2 separate regions of the Homo sapiens genome follow, and region 2 is linked to region 1. The links come from fine-mapping of genetic effects on gene expression. A gene starts in region 1. The other region holds a variant in brackets. All regions are shown on one strand. Distances are between the middles of the regions.

Region 1 (5,375 bases):
ATTTACAGGAAAAGGCTTCTGAAACCAGACAACACCTTTCAAATTCTTATACCAACCTCTGGAGTTGGGTGACTTGGCTTCTCCCCTTTCTAGGTCCCGTGACAGCCATCTTGCTATTACTCACCTTCAGTCCCTGTATTTTTAACCTCCTCCTCAAATTTGTTTCCTCCAGGATCAAGGCCATCAAGCTACAGATGGTCTTACAAATGGAACCCCAAATGAGCTTAACTCACAACTTCTACCGAGGACTGCTAGACTGACCCACTGGCCCTTTGACTGGCCTAGAGAGTTCCCCTCTGGAGGACACTACAACGGCAGGGCCCCTTCTTTGCCCCTATCCAGCAGGAAGTAGCTAGAGTGGTCATCACCCAGTTCCCAGTAGCAGGTGGGGTGTCCTGTTATGAGGGAGGATTGAGAGGTGAGGCCAGCTGGACTTCCTAGGTCGAGTGGGGACTTGGGGAACTTTCCTGTCTTACAAGAGAATTGTAAAATGCACCAATCAGCGCTCTGTAAAACGCACAATCAGCAGCATTCTAAAAGTAGCCAATCACGGGGAGGATTGAAAAAAGGGCACTCTGATAGGACAGAAATGGAACATGGGAGAGGACAATAAGGGAATAAAAGCTGGCCACCCCAGCCAGTAGCGGCAACCTGCTGGGGTCCCCTTCCATGCTGTGGAAGCTTTGTGCTTTCGCTGTTCACGATAAACCTTGCTATCACTCACTCTTTGGGTCTGCGCCATCTTTACGAGTGTAACACTCACTGCGAAGGTCCACAGCTCCATTCTTGAAGTCAGCAAGACCACGAACCCACCGACAGGAACCAACTCTGGACACAACTATAGCCTCCAACTCCTGGGCTCAGGCAATCCTTCTGCCTTAGCCTCCCAAGTAGCTGGGGCTACATGCATGCACTAATGTCTAGCTAATTTTATTTTTATTTTTGGAGAGACAGGGTCTTGCTCTTTCACCCAGGCTGGTCTTGAACTCTCAGCCTCAAGTGATCCTCCCACCTTAGCTTCCCAAAGCACAGAGATTACATGCCTTTCCCTCAAGCTACTTGCCATCTCATCTTCCTTACTATATTAAAAGCAAAGGCTCCGGACATGGACTACTGGGGTTGGATTTCTGGCTCTGCTCTTTAACAGCTATGTGATTTGGACAGCTGGTTTCTTTCTGTGCCTCAGTTTCCTCATATGTAAAAGGAGGATATGAACAATGGCTTCCATGCCTGGCCTTCTTTTTCACTTTATAAATAAGTATACTTCTCTCCTTTCTGAATGTGGGAATAATACATTGTTTATAAATTTAGAAGTTGGAAACTACAAAAAAAAAAAACACAAAAAAAAGAGAGAGAGAAAGAAAATCATTACATTATTCCTAATCTCATTTGATGTACTTTGGCCTATTTCTTTCAGGCACTTTTCTGCATGTACCTTTTTTCCATAGCTGAAACCATATTGTATAAATAGCTTCAGATTCTGGTGGGGTGGTTTTTTCATGTAGTAGAACAGGTGTTTTCCCAAGTCCCTGAGCTCTCACTCTGCACACCCCATCTACCATTTCCCAGTGATGTGGCTTTGGGCGGTTGCTGCAGTTTGCTATTACACAAGTAAGCATGCAACCCACACCTGGGGAGAGAACTTTCTTCTCTCCTGAATCTCGGCTCGCATCTTTAAGCGCCACCCCATTAGACAGGAGGCAGCAGAAGCACAAAGCTCCATGAGTAACTCCTCTCCCTTTTGGAAAAGTTCACAGAAAGCAATTTTGGAGACCTTGGCAACGTTTAATTATGAACATTTAGAAAGACAACGGATCTCCTCATATGCACTGGGACTTCAGGGCCAGGTCTTCAGTTTCATGATTCGCATGATTCGCAGGGCTCCGGCACAGGAGCAATCTGAAAGCTGGGCTGCAAGCCCAGCGCGGTCTGCCTCCTGAGGCCCCGACCCACTGCGGCGGCGGCGCTGGGCCCCCTTACCTGGGCAGCGCCAGGGCCTCCTCCGTGCGGCCGAGGACGCCGAACACCGCTGGCAGCGCCAGCACCCCGTCAAGGTCGAAGACGGCCGCGCGCAGCGTCATGGCGGCGGGTCTGCAGCCTAGCACCCGGACACGCAGCTAACCTGGGAGATGCGCGAAGGCCAGGGCGCATGACCCGCCCAGCTTGGCCCGGCTCTGCCCCGCCCCTGCCCTGGCCCCGCCTCCTCCCCACACCCCCTTAACGGGACTCCGCCCTCTGCCCGGGTTAAGGCTGGACTCTGGCCGGGAAAGAGGCAGGGGGAGGGGCACAGGAAAGGGAGTCAGAGGGAGAGGAAGAGGAGGCCGGGAAGGCGGGGACCCCAGGCTAGAATCTCGCCTCTGGATGTAACGCTTTCTACTGTCTCAAAGGAAAGTCCAAAGTCTCTTATGCCCCCTCCCCACGCCCCTGCAGTAGCTGCTTGAAGAGGCAAACCCAGGCCCGGGCCTTCCTGGACGGACTGACAGCTCCCTGCGAACTTGCTGGACTTGGAATGCCTGGGAAAGAGGCCACAGACTCTGTGTGTGTGTGTGTGTGTGTGTGTGTGTGTGTGTGTGTGTGTGTGTGTGTGTGTCAGCACATCCAGTGACTTCTACATTCAGAACATAAGACCGTGTTGGGGGGCGGGGGAGGGGCATATCCAGTGACTTTTCTAGATTCAGAACGAAGGATCACAGATCCCTCACTATCCTGACCACTCCTCTAGGCACGCTCTTCTTTGCCAAGGCAAATGTGTTTCTAGAATAAAATATGATGTTCCAGCTATCGTGTGCCAGCCCAGAATACTTCGATTTCAATCTCTTGTGGAATGAAGCTTAGAAGAACTAAATGTAGGCTATTATTTTCCTTTTGTACATGCTACTTGTAATAATTCTGTCTTAAAATGTGCGAGGTTTGTTTTTAATCACCGATTTCCACACTATTGGCTCGTTTATGTTCCTAGAAAAACTAAAACTTTGGCTGGGAGTTCTTGAGCTGTTGTAGTGCAGCTCCATGAATTAAAAACCGTGTCTTTGGTGGAGACCAAACAGAGTGAGTGAGGTCTCCAACAGTGGAGAATTTACTCTTGAATGTGTCTCTGTGGATTTATCCAAGATACCCTCCACCACGGAGCTTCAAGAACCTTGTGAGGGGTTGTCAGATACCTCACTGTAACTGGGAGGTCTACAACAGTCTCTGGATCTAGCAATCAACAACAGGATTGACCAGAGCCGTGGGTTTCCTCTGGGCTGTTTGCCCTTAGCAAGCTATGCTGTTGCTTCCTTCTCTAGCTTGGTAACCTCTTCCAGGCTCCTGCCTGGAGCAGTTATTAGTGTTTTCTGAGATTCTTGCCAAAGAAGCAGAGAGTGGCCAACACTGCCAAATGTTACAGGAAGAACTGAAAAAAAAGCTGTCCAATTTTGGACTTGGATGACACCGGATGTTTCAGAACACTTTTTGTGGGCCCTTTATGGTAGAAACTGGATTACTCTGGATTTGAAGACTGAAAGATAGGCAGAGAAGGGAGTACAGCAAGCTAGTTTCTCATGAAGTTAGTTGATCTCAAAGGTATAATTGAATTTTAAAAAATAGAAAGAAAATTGCAGCCTGACCTATATAGTATGAAACCTGTTAAATCTCCAGATTGGGCATGGTGGCACACACCTGTAATCCCAGCACTTTGGGGCTGAGGTGGGAGAATTGCTTGAGGCCAGGAGTTTGAGACAAGCCTGGGCAACAAAGCAAGACATTCTCTCTATAAAAAATAAAAATAAAATATTAGCTAGGCATGGTGGTGCATGCCAGTAGTCTCTGCTATTCAGGAGGCTGAGGTGGGACGATCACTTTAGCCCAGGAAGTGGAGGCTGCAGTGAGCCATGATTGTGCCACTGCACTCCATCCAGCCTGGGTGACACAGCAAGACTCTACCTCCAAAAAAAAAAAAGAAAGAAATTAAATCTCCAACTTAGAGTTTCCTTTGGGCTCCAGACTTGCCAACTTCTTACTCAACATCTTACTCAACGTCAATATCCAACTTCTTACTGAACATCTTCTCTTGAGTGTCTAACAGGCATCTCAAATTTATCATGGCTAAAACAGAACTCTCTCTGCATTTCTACTTCCCACGCCTGTTCCTCCTAGTGTGTTCCCTATCTTACAAACTGGCATCCCCATTGACTCAGTGGCTCAGTCCCGAGACCACGGAGTTGCTTCCAGATCCTTGGCTCCCAGCCAAACCATATGTTCGTGTTTCTAGCGGTGGCCTGCTGATTGAGGCAGAGATAGCAGCTTCTAGTTCTATGGTGGTGTTTTCTGGGAGTCCTTCCTAAAGGCTCAGTCTGGAGCTCACTCCTCCATTCCGTTCAAAGATTGTGTAGGCTTGCAGTCTCTCATCTTAAATCCCTTTCTTCTGTTTCTATTTAAAATAACTACAGTGATTTCTGTTGCCTGCATCTGAATTCTGCATCTAGCACAGTATTGCTTATGAATACGTAAGTATATTTATACAAGCAGTAAAGTGTAGAGGAACGACATACCTACAGAACTAGATTTCATAAAGCCCCCTTTTGAGAAGAAAAATTTAAAAACATAGAAATATGAGTTTTACTTTCCTCTTTGGTTAAGAGAAAGCCATGAAGCTATCACATGGACTTTTATTTATTCAGGAGCAGTTAACTTGTAAATAGCTCTGGTGTGGAATATTTTTATAATGCCTTGTGAGTTACAGAGCTTTCTGGCTGAATTGCTTAGGCAAAGATTAAAGGTCTCAATTGCATTTCACTGCACTTTGCCCTTTTTCATGGTCGTGCTTCTCCTGTGTTTTCTGCTACTAAGGTACAGAGAGATAAGGGCTTACCCAGCAGGGCTATGGGAACTGGGTGGCTTTTTGAAATGTAAATCCTAACCCCTATGTCTTCTAATTTTAATATTTATGAAATATGTTTTAGGTGATAGCATGAATCATAAAAGATGGCTAATGTAGTAGTGAAAATTTATAAATTACACCTGATTTCAATCACTAAATTCATAATGAATGTACACTGACCTCATTAAGGTTTATTTTGGGTTTTCTGCCATTCCTGTGCCTTCTGCAACTTCCTGCTAGTCCTTGATTGTCAAACCCTATTTTATAAAATCTGTTTAACCACTAGGGGTTGGGAGGGAGGACTTTACACTGCTGCTTCTCTCTACTGTAGATACTCATGGAGTTCAAAGTAAAGCTACCTCTGGCAGTTTTCTAAACCTACAAACCACTTGAAGTTTTGTCTTTTTTTCAATGCGGCAAATGAACGAGCGTCTTTCATTCCATCAGCAAATATGTATCAAGCATCTTCTATGTGCCAGGCACTGTTCTAGGCACTTGGGATCAATTGTTAAAT
Region 2 (5,375 bases), 54 kb before region 1:
CAAATTCCAGCTAGATGGGAGGAGTAAGTTCTAGCGTTGTATAGCACTGAGCAATGACTACAGTCAACAATGATACATTGTTTTAAATAGCCAGAAGGAGGTTATTAAATGTCCTCAATACAAAAACGATAAATGTTTGAGATGACATGTGTAATTACCCTGATCTGATTGCTACACATTATATGTATCAAAACATCACTATGTACCCCATGAATATGTACTAGTATGTTAATTACAAATTAAATTCAATCCCAAAATATAGCATTTTATAATTAAATCATTTTGAACACACTCCTTGCCATTTGTACTTAAAATGGCATCTGAAAATCTTCCCTGATTGTTCCAGGGAATGCCCTGATACCACCACTGCAACAGTTGACGTGTGGCCCAAAGGTCCTCAAAGCAGACCAGGAAACATAGCCCTGGACATTCCACTATCTTCTTGAAAAACCTAAAGACCTCTTCCAGTCCACTGTCCTTTATGGCCCTTGATACGGTTTGGATTTCTGTCCCCACCCAAATCTCACGTCAAATTGTAATCCACGATGTTGGAAGTGGGGCCTGGTGGGCAGTGACTGGATCTTGGGGGCGGATTTCCCCCTTGCTGTTCTCGTGATGGTGAGTTCCCATGAGATCTGGTTGTTTATAAAAGTGTGTAGCACCTCCCCCTTCTCTTTCTCTCTCCCTCCTGTTCTAGACACGTAGGATGTGCCTGCTTCCCCTTCACCGTCTGCCATGATTGTAAGTTTTCTGGAGCCTCCCCAGCCATGCTTTCTGTAAAGCCTGCAGAACCGTGAGCCAATTAAACCTCTTTTCTTTATAAAGTAGCCAGTCTCCAGTAGTTCGTTATGGCAATGGGAGAACAGACCGATACAGCCCTCAATCTTGTATAACCAGTTATATTTTCTGGCAATGCTATGGAATGGAGTTATTCAACTCTTACTTGCCAAAGGAGCAGAATTTCTGAGGCCTTTTTGATGGCTGATGGAGATGACTGGATAGAATATTAAAAGCGAGACTTTCGGGAAGACAGGTTTGCTGTTTGTGCTCCTTCCAGTAAAGGACGCTTTTAGGTTTTGATTATTTCCTTTCCCCCAACTGCTCCCTTACAAATGAGCTTGAATACACCCAGTTAGGAAAATAATGTGATCTGGTGTAAGCCTTTCCCCCAGTCCTCATGATTGCCTTTAAATTAGCCCTTTAATTCTCAGATGCAAAAGATTGAGATGGTGGTGGCATGGCTGGAAATGGAAAGCCCTTAGAGGTCTTGTCCTAAGACAAACTGGAAATCTTATAGCTGATACTTCCATAGCACTTCCTCCATGCCAAGCACTGTTCTAGAACTCTGTGCATATTATTAACATACTTGATACAACCACCCATGAGTTAGGTCCTACTAACGTCCCCTTTTTTATAGATGAGGGAACTGGGGCACAGATATCCTTTTTCAAGGTCACAAGGCGAGTATGCAGCTGACCGGAGGCCTAACCTAGGTGGTCTGGCTCCAGATTTAGAAAGGAGAACTTCTCTTTTTTTTTTTTTTTTTGAGTCGGAGTCTCAATCTGTTGCCCAGGCTGGAGTGCAGTGGCGCGACGAGAACATTTTTTTGTAGAAAAAGCTCAGCCTTAGGAGCCAGAAAGCCTGCTTCTGAATCCAGGCTCTGCCCCCATCTAGCCAAGCAGTCCTGGGCAAATTATCTGAACCTCAGTTTCCCTCTCGGTTAAATGGGAAGGACTCTCTGGAAGGATCAGAGGTGGTGCATGGAAGACTCCAGGTGCACTAGGGCAGTGAAGAAATGCCAGCAGCCTCCATTTCAAACCTCTCCTGGCTTTCTCCCTATACACAGATACTCAGGCTCTTGTGACCTGGCCAACTCATGCCCGTCATCATGCCAAACTCAGCTTGGAGGGACCACTTTCTCTCGCAAGCAGCGAGGCCATTGTGCGTGCATCTGTGAGCCCGATAACCATGCAAGGGGGGCAGGCAGAAAGGGCTCGGAACCCAGCCTATGGGCTTGGAGGAGGTGGCAGGAGGAATATTCCAGGCAAAGAATGGGTAAGTTAGGCAGAGGGTCAAGGAGGATCAGCACCTGCAAGTGTGCTGCTGGAGGGCGGTTAGGAATTGGAGGGTGATGGGGCCGGGCTGGGGGTGGGCAGGGGCAGTTGGGGGAGGCCCTGCGAGTTTCAGGATCCAACCATGTGGGCGGCAAGACCCGTGAGGAGGCTGCTGCTCCAGGACTCTGGGGCTGGAAGCAGGGCAGGGGAGAGACCACTGCAGGAGACACATCAGTGAGATGGGAGCCTAACCGGATGTGACAGGAGGCAGGAGAGGGTAGAGGGGAAGATAGGGAGGAGGGGGCAGAGGGGAAGATGAGCTGGATCTGCCTGAGCCTCATGGCAGCTGCTGCTATTTAACTTTAAACTGATTACAATTCAATGAAATTTAAAATTCTCTTCCTCAGCCTCACTAGCACATTTCAAATGCTCCAGGTGCACATTTGTGCCTGAGCAAACTCTGCTAGGGAAGCCGGGAGAAAGGCAGGTGGCTACCTGTGGCCAGTGACTGCTCTAGGGGACAGAGCACAAGACACCACTGCCATCCCCATAGGATTGTCTCCTGGCCAGCACGGCCTAGATCATACAGCACCTTGGAGCCCAGAACAGGGCTCAAAAGCAGAGGGAAAGGGTTCATCCCCATGCCGTGCATTCTCCGTGAACAGTCACTCCACCTCTCCAAGAACAAAGACAGCCAGCAGCATAGTCATCTTAGCTTTATTGAGTAAGGCATCCCAATCTCTGCTAAGATTCTTCTAAATGAACGGCTGATTTTTCTGCCAAACTATGCATTGGTCAAAGAGAAATCACCACCTGGCCACCCCATTCTGTCCCCCTACAGGACACTAAGGGTTCTTACAGATAAAGGGACGATGCATTCATGCCTGGAGAACTAATCACACCTGATTTCTCTGGGATCTAAAATAATGTCAAATTTGATTCACTTTATGTAAAGAAAATCTTTTTTTTCTGCAAACCCCTTCAGAACAATGCTGCCATCCATGCAAGATGTGTGTAAGGCCACCTCTGTATACTAAGAATGGTGCCCCAGCAGGTGGAAGGA[T/C]GGCACACCTGCTGAGCGTGGGCACACGCTGCGTTCTACATCTTTGAGACCACCGGTGGGTTCCGGGCATCAGAATCCAGCCACTTAATGAGGATCTGATTCACCTCGGTTGGCCTGGGGGAAAGGGAGAAGTAAAAGAAAAAAATAGCCATTCACACTTGTCTGCACCTACCCAGCCAACTCGAAGGCAGAGGTGAGTGACATGAGTGGCTAAGCCAGGCCAAAGCCAGCACAATGAAACCAGGAAAGCTTTTATGGAAGGTGAACGGGGGGCCCTGCTCTCCCCGACCCCAGGAGCCCCCAACCTCCTTACTTGTCCATCTGTGTCCAGTGCCCACAGTCCTCAATGTGTCCCCTTTTCAGGTGGGGAATCTGAAAGGAAACCCCAGGCAGAAAGGTAAATGGAAGAAGGCAGATGGGTGTGTCTCTAGCTAGTGCAATGGGCAATGGACGCCTTCTCTCTGCTCCCCGCAGGCCACCCTGCCCAAACCCTGCATGATTTAGGAAGGGAATAATGAATGAATGAGACCCCACATCCATGCAGGGGAAAGGAAGGTACAGTCACGGTTGCTGCTTGCAATGGGGGGACAGTGATGTTACTGATGATGTGCTTCAACCATGGTCCTATCCACATGACAAGGTGTATCTTCTGCTGCCGTCTTCCCTCTGAGCACCCGTGCCCTCTCCCGGGGTGCACTGATGACCCTTGTACAGGGCCATTCCCTCACCCAGTCCTCCATGTGCTGGGACATCTGAGGAACGAGCACGAAGTCCTTCTCCGCCGTGACCATCAGGGCCGGAATCAGGATCTGGGGGGAGAACAGGAAACAGAAGTGGCCAGCACTCCACAAAGGAAGCCCTCCCTCCTCCTCTGAAAGACCCCTGCTCGCCACCCTGCTGTGGTCCTGACGTTGTATCTGCCGAACTTTGCACAACAGACTCGTGGTTATTACTGGAGATCTTTAAAATAACAGCTTCAGCAGTGCAGAGGCCAATATGGGTCTTATGTGTGCAGATGTGTGTGAGTGAGAACGTGTGCTGAGCTGCATGTAACTGGGAGAACCGAATTGATGGCACCAAGAAGGCAGAAGACACCCTTGAATGAAGATCAAGATTCCTCTTCCCTGAATTAAATAGATGCTTAAAAGGGGCGACCAAGGTTCCAGAGAAAATGGGGGCAGCCACAGTAGTAATCAATGTGACATGAATGGCAGCAAAGTAACTTCCAATTGCTGGCAAATGAGTTGAACACAGGGAGGCATGCACAGGAAGGCCAGGAAAGCCTCTGTGTTTTTTCCTTTGTTCTCGCTCCACCATTACCCTAATTTCCAAGCAGCTTTGACCCATCCCTGGTTGAGGAACGTGCACTATTTTCATTTACACCCAGAGTGATGGGCATCTCTCCACACCCCTCCCTCCTCCCACAACCAGGAGCCAGGAGAAGGTCAAAAATGATTTTGTGGCTAAAACGAATCCTGAGGCTTCTATGAGGTTTGTAAACTCTAGAAAGTTCCAAGCTAAAATGTGAACTGGGCGGGGGGCGGGGGGGGGAGAGGATGGGATGGGAGGAGGTGGGGGAGGAGAGAGGAAGATCCAGCTGGAAACTGCAGAAGAGAGGCTGGGTGCAGTGGCTCACGCCTGTCATCCCAGCACTTTGGGAGGCCGAGGTGGGTGGATCGCCTGAGCTCAGGAGTTTGAGACCACCCTGCGCAACATGGTGAAGCCCCATCTCTACTAAAACACAAAAAATTCGCTGGGTGTGGTGGCGCACTCCTGTAATTCCAGCTGCTTGGGAGGCTGAGGCAGGAGAATTGCTTGAACCCAGGGGGCAGAGGTTGCAGTGAACCGAGATCGTGCCATTGCATTCTAGCCTGGGCAACTGAGCAAGACTGTCTCAAAAAATAAACTGCAGAAGAGGAGGGTTTCTGACCTTAGCACCATTGGGATTCACCTTCCCAGCGCCTTTGTCAATATTTTCCTCCACGCTTTGAGAGATTTTGTCTGTCCAACTGCAGTTTGGTCATTTTCATCGGTCATATGATGATAATGACAAGGAACACTAATGGAGCTAATAGGTTCCCAGTACTGCTTGTAACAGGTCACATGCCTTCAACCATTTCATCCTTACACAGCTCTGTGAGGGAGGCACTGTTCTTGCCACTTGCATATTGCAGAAGAAGCCACAGTGGATCAGAGGGGTTAAGTACCTTTCCCAGGGTCACACAGGGATTAGACTCAGCCCATGTGCTTCCTAGCCT

The links. PIP is the estimated chance that this variant, and not a neighbour inherited with it, causes the effect.
Region 2: its variant is fine-mapped to the expression of EPHX2 in whole blood (INTERVAL, PIP above 0.99).

The regions. Positions count from the first base shown.
Region 1 is chr8:27,487,915-27,493,289 of GRCh38, reverse strand. It overlaps EPHX2 (epoxide hydrolase 2), which reads right to left and starts at 2,147. Exons shown (of 19, transcript NM_001979.6): 1 at 1,981-2,147. The coding sequence starts at 2,081. RefSeq lists a silencer at 2,064-2,343 and a cis regulatory region at 4,090-4,404.
Region 2 is chr8:27,542,300-27,547,674 of GRCh38, reverse strand. EPHX2 (epoxide hydrolase 2) reads right to left here. Exons shown (of 19, transcript NM_001979.6): 17 at 3,846-3,926; 18 at 3,431-3,489; 19 at 2,111-3,231. The coding sequence ends at 3,153. Among named protein-coding and RNA genes, the nearest start is that of EPHX2, 54 kb to the right of the region's middle. The variant T/C (reference allele first, on the strand shown) is at 3,118.